2 separate regions of the Homo sapiens genome follow, and region 1 is linked to region 2. The links come from fine-mapping of genetic effects on gene expression. A gene starts in region 2. The other region holds a variant in brackets. All regions are shown on one strand. Distances are between the middles of the regions. Region 1 has its middle 4.6 kb from the start of AURKC. Region 2 holds the start of ZNF264 (zinc finger protein 264).

The links. PIP is the estimated chance that this variant, and not a neighbour inherited with it, causes the effect.
Region 1: its variant is the best candidate, but not a certain one, in a credible set for the expression of ZNF264 in whole blood (TOPMed, PIP 0.50).

The regions. Positions count from the first base shown.
Region 1 is chr19:57,225,071-57,227,867 of GRCh38, forward strand. No RefSeq gene overlaps it. Among named protein-coding and RNA genes, the nearest start is that of AURKC, 4.6 kb to the right of the region's middle. The variant A/G (reference allele first, on the strand shown) is at 1,292.
Region 2 is chr19:57,190,277-57,193,073 of GRCh38, forward strand. ZNF264 (zinc finger protein 264) reads left to right here and starts at 1,224. Exons shown (of 4, transcript NM_003417.5): 1 at 1,224-1,670. The coding sequence starts at 1,638. RefSeq lists enhancers at 1,060-1,119, 1,140-1,229, 1,240-1,299 and a silencer at 1,470-1,739.

The DNA.
Region 1 (2,797 bases), 35 kb after region 2:
ATCTTTGAAATTAGGCTTCAGCAGTGACAGTAATCTTTTTTCATCTCAGTTTCTTGACTTTTGGCATACATGTCATTTCAGCCACCTACAAGCCTATTTTCCATCTGCATGTTCTTTTGCTGTGTGTGTGTGTGTGTGTGTGTGTGTGTTTGACATAGGATCTTAGGCTGGGCGCGGTGGCTCACACCTGTAATCCCAGCACTTTGGGAGGTCGAGGCAGGTGGATCACTTGAGATTAGGAGTTTGAGACCAGCCTTGCCAACATGGAGAAACCCCGTCTCTACTAAAAATACAAAAAATTAGCTGAGTGTGGTGGTGCATGCCTGTAATCCCAGCTACTCGGGAGGCTGAGGCAGGAGAAATGCTTGAACCCGGGAGGTAGAGGCTGCGGTGAACCAAGATTGCGCCATTGCACTCCAGCCTGGGCAACAAGAGTGAAACTCCATCTCAAAAAACAAAAAACAAAAAAAAAATAGGGTCTTCTGATCATGGCTCACTGCAGGCTCAGCCTCCCAAGTATCTGAGACTACAGGTGCACATCACTATGCCCAGCTAATTTTTAAATTTTTTGTAGAGATGGGGGTCTCCCTGTGTTGCCCAGGCTGGTTTCAAACTCCTGGGCTCAAGCAGTCCTCCTCCCCTGGCCCCCAAAGTGCTGGGGTTACAGGCATGAGCCACCGTGCCTGGTCTTCATCTGCATGTTCTTTTGTCATTTTCAAACCCTTTCTGAATTATCCTCACACTTCTTGAGTATCAGACATCACCAGTCTGATCTTCCATATGTCCCTATGTCTGTATGGGCTTCTCCAGCTTTGAGTTCTTTGTCTTTTCCTCACTCTCTTCCTCTAATGGAGGAGCCTCTTGGGGCTCATGTCACGCTCCCATTACCTCTTCCTTGTGTTATTTCTCTCCACGTCCCGCAACTCCCCTCTCCTTGTAAACTCCCCGGCTACAGCACCACGCTTTTTACCACTCTGGTGAAGGTCAGCAGTGGCTCCCTGTTTATGAATCCTAAGTCCTTGTCTTTTCTGGGCTATGGACAGGACTTGAAACTGTTGTTGTCCAGTCCTTTCTCCAGATGTACTCTTGGATTCTGTAAGGTTATGCTTCTGGTTTTCTCCCCTGCACCCTCTCACTCCTTTTCCCCTTTCATGTTGGTGCATCCACGTGTATCCAGCCATTTGGTGTTGAATTTTTTTTCTTTTTTTTTTCTCTTTGAGACAGAGTCTTGCTCTGTCTCCGGGCTGAAGTGCAATGGCATGATCTCGGCTCACTGCATCCTCCGCCTCCC[A/G]GGTTCAAGTGATTCTCCCGCCTCTGCCCCCTGAGTAGCTGGCATTACAGGCATCTGCCATTATGCCCGGCTAATTTTTGTATTTTTGTAGAGACGGGGTTTCACCATGTTGGCCAGGCTGGTCTTTAACTCCTGACCTCAGGTGATCCGCCTGCCTTGGCCTCCTAAAGGGCTGGGCTTACAGGCATGAGCCACCGTGCCTGACCGGTGTTGAAATTTCTAAGGCTTTGTCCCAGGCCTCTTTTTTCTCTTACTGGTCTCTCCCCAGGCCTCATCTGCACTCTTGGGTTCAGCTACCTACTTTAGTGAACATACCCTAAAACGTATTTCCCCAACCCTCATCTCATACAAGTCTTACTGCTCTCCTTTCACTCCATGCTTCCCTTTCCTTTTCCCACTCGAGATGGAGCTTCCACCACCTGCTTTGCCCAGTTAGCAAATGTGTATCCTTCATTTTGTCCCAGAGAGCACACCTTCACAGAAGCCCACTAGAGCACCCAGCTAGCTCATACCCATTCTTTCATGATTATCTATTGATTTGTTTGGTTATTGAATAATGACCGTATCCTGAACTCAATTTCCAGCTTCGAAAAAGCACAGACCTTGATCTAGATTTTCTCCTAATGTTCCATGTGCATAGTTTGTAGTCAATAGTATGTATTCAGATATTTGTTAGGTGAATGAGCCTTAATCATTTTTGACATTTTAGGTTATGTGACATTCTCTCCCCAGTACCACCTCAGGCTCGATGATTTGCCTGAAAGTCAAAATTCAGAAAAGAAAGTCACACACAACTCAGAAAAGCTGTTGTACTCATGGTTACAGTTTATTACCACAAAAGGATAGAGACCAAGATCACCAAAGGTAAAAGGCACATAGGAGGAAATCTGTGAGAAACCAGGCACAATTTTTTTTCTTTTTTCTTTTTCTTTTTTTTTTTTTTTTTTTTTGAGATGGAGTCTCGCTGTGTCACCCAGGCTGGAGTGCAATGGCACAATCTCGGCTCACTGCAACCTCTGCCTCCCAGGTTCAGGTGATCCTCTGCCTCAGCCTCCCAAGTAGCTGGGATTACAGGCATGTGCCACCACACTGGCTGATTTTTGTGTTTTTAGCAGAGATGGGGTTACACCATGTTGGCCAGGCCAGTCTGGAACTCCTGACTTCAAGTGATCCACCCGCCTTGGCCTCCCAAAGTGCTGGGATTACGGGTGGAAGCCACTGTGTCCAGCACAGGCACAAACTTAGCAGGTGTTCCCTCCCAGTGCAGTTGCACAAGGGCACACTGAATTCTCCCAGCAAAGTTGTGTGCAACACATTCACAGTATTGCCAGCCAGGGAAGCTCCCCCAAGCCTTGACGTCTAGAGTTTTCGTTAAGGGTCATTGAGGTAGGAATGCAGAACCCACATGAATAACCATAAATATCCAGTCTACAACCCTTGCAGAAAACAAACATATAGCATGGCCCAGGGCCTCATGCATGCAAAAGCCAGCATCCACCATGAATC
Region 2 (2,797 bases):
AACTGAAACTTACTGGATTACCACATCTGGAAAAACGAGATGCTATACCCCTTACCCATGATGATTGCCTAACTGACCATCTGCTGCCTGTTGACCCATTCCTCTTCCTTACCCCTTCCTAATTCCTGTTTTCTCAAACATAGTTACACTTCTTCCCTGATGTATAAACCCCTAGTTTTAGTCAGTTGAGGAAAGAGATTTGAGATTGATCTCCCATTTTCCTCAGCTGCAGCACCGAATAAAGCCTTCATCCCTGACAATACTCATTGTCTTGCTGACTGGCCTTCTGTGCAGCAAGCAGCAGGATCTAGATGCAAGGACCTGGCCTTTCTGGTAATATTGTCATCAACCATTTAATGATGTAGACTTGGTCCCCGGCTCATGCTCTGTGTATTTTCTTCTCCATCTACATGCATTGCCTTGATGGTCTCACTCAATATCATGACTTGAAATAACAGTGTAAGGTAACTCCTAAATTCATATATTCATGCTCAAACCTTCTTCCAACATTCAGTCGTAAGTCGAATTGCCTGTGACAGAGATACTTTGTGGTTCTGTAGACATTTCAAACTAACCATCCTGAGCCTCCGAACCTCCTCCACTTGCAGCCTCCCCACCTCAGAAGTGGGCAAATCCACTTTTTGTGTGGTCTGGGCCAAATACATGACTCCCTGCATCACGTAGAGGCTGTGCTGGTCCAAAGAAGGCTCAAAAGAGGGCAGTTTGCGCACACAACGTGTCGGGGCAGGGCTTCCAGATGATCATTCGGCTTTTTTGTGTCTTCCAAGATGATGATCCGGGGAGGAGGGATGTGAAAGGGGGTCAGTCGCCAGGCGAGCTGAGGACCCAGTTCTGCGCCTTTGCCTGTGCCCTGACCTGAAGGAAAGTCCCTGTCTCCCGAGCTCCGATTTTCCCGAGAGAAGAATGCAATGTAACCCTTGCCCCTCGGTTCCCTCCCTCCATCCTTCCCCTCGAGTTGTGCCCACCGTAAAGAGGTGGGTCTGGAGCGTCTCCTCGGGTCCTGGAGTGCCTTTCCCTGGGAGGAAAACTTGCGCCGTGAAGCGTTCCTCCCGTTGTTGAACACATGAGGAAAACTACACTACTTAGAAGGCTGTGCATTATGCGTACGGCGGGAGCTGGGCCAACGACGGCCTAGGACGGGGACGTTTCCGACGGCTCACGCCGGTGGGGGCGGGACTTCCGGGTTGCTCGCTGCGGACGCCATTTTCTTCTGCACTTCTGTCTGGAGAGGTCTGTAGCCACTGAGGGCCCCGGTCGGGGCCGCTTTGCAGGTCCCTAGTCAGGACCGAGCAGGGGAGTAGGATAGGAATCCCCGCCGCACCTTTGTACGAGCCTGACCCCTTCCGTGGGTTTGTTCCTGGGTCGCCGTCAAGCTGCGGTCTCTCCTCCCCCGCCCTTCAGCCCCGCGGTCTCCAGGGGCGGCGCCCTGGGTCTGGAACGCGGTTGCCACCGAGGAGGCGGCGGCCCTGCGTCTGGAACGCCGTTGCCACCGAGGAGGCGGCGGCCCCGAGCGCGCCTGGAAGCCCCGGGCAACCGGCCAGGGTCGGGCACAGGTGGGGTCCGTCAGGCCGCCCGGGGCTCCTCTGTCCCAGCTCTGCGGCCCAGGGGGTGACGTGATGGCGGCAGCGGTGCTGACGGACCGGGCCCAGGTGAGTGGACGGTGGCTTCGCGGTTGCCGCTTCCTTGCCAGCGCTGAGGCGGTTTCCGAAGTGGGTGGGAGCCCAGGTATCCCCTGGATTTGTCTTCGCAGTCGTCGTTCGCTTTGGTGTGTGGAGCTGGTTTGCCACTTAATTTATACCTGGCCGTAAGGAGTGTTGGGCCTACTGGAAGGAGCTCCGTAGGTTGTTGAGTGAATGATGCTTCCTCTGGGGACTCCCATCATCCTTGGCCTGCAAGCATTCTCTGGTGGACCAGGTCTCATTCCAGCATGAATTGGGGGCCTGAGGGGGGAAGGGGAGGGCAGGGCAGTAGCAAGCCGACAAATGCGCGAGCAGAGACAAGGTATGTTGTATGTTTAAGGAGGCTCAGGAGGGTGTGTAAGGTTGCCATGGTTTTCCTGCGGCCGCTGAGACGTGGAGGGCAACAGTGTGTGGTCTTTTCCTGGATGTTCTAGCCATCCGCAACTACTGCAGACATTGTGGCCAGTCAGATGCCCTTACTCTCATCGCTACAGCCTGCATTATCCTTGGCCGCTCGTGTTCCGTGGCCCCAAAGTATCCTGGCGTCAGAGACAAGTTCTGTCGGAACCCAGTAAGGAAAGAGGCCGATGGTTGGTTCATTGTGGAATTTCCTTGGGGGATCTGGGAGACCCAGGGAGATCCCAGAGGGCATGGGAAGCTGGTCTGGAGCCTGTCGTTCCCCAAGTAGATGCAGCCCTTCCAGTGCCGCTCTGTGGGGTCAGTGAGGAATGCTGAGCTTTTTGTGCCCGTGTTCACATACTTTTTTTTGTTTTGAGACAGGGTCTCACTCTGTCGCCCAGGCTGGAGTACAGTGGTGCACTCTCAGCTCACTGCAGTCTCTGCCTCCCAGGTTCAAGCAATTCTCCTGCCCCAGCCTGCCGAGTAGTTGGGATTACAGGCATGCACTACCACACCTGACTGATTTTTGTATTTTAGTAGAGACTGGGTTTCACCATATTTGCCAGGCTGGTCTTCAACTCCTGGCCTCAAGCGATCCGCCCACCTCGACCTCCCAAAGTGCTGGGATTACATGCATGAGCCACCATGCCCGGCCCACAGATACGTTTTTCAGGGCTAATTGAAATAGACTTAATGTT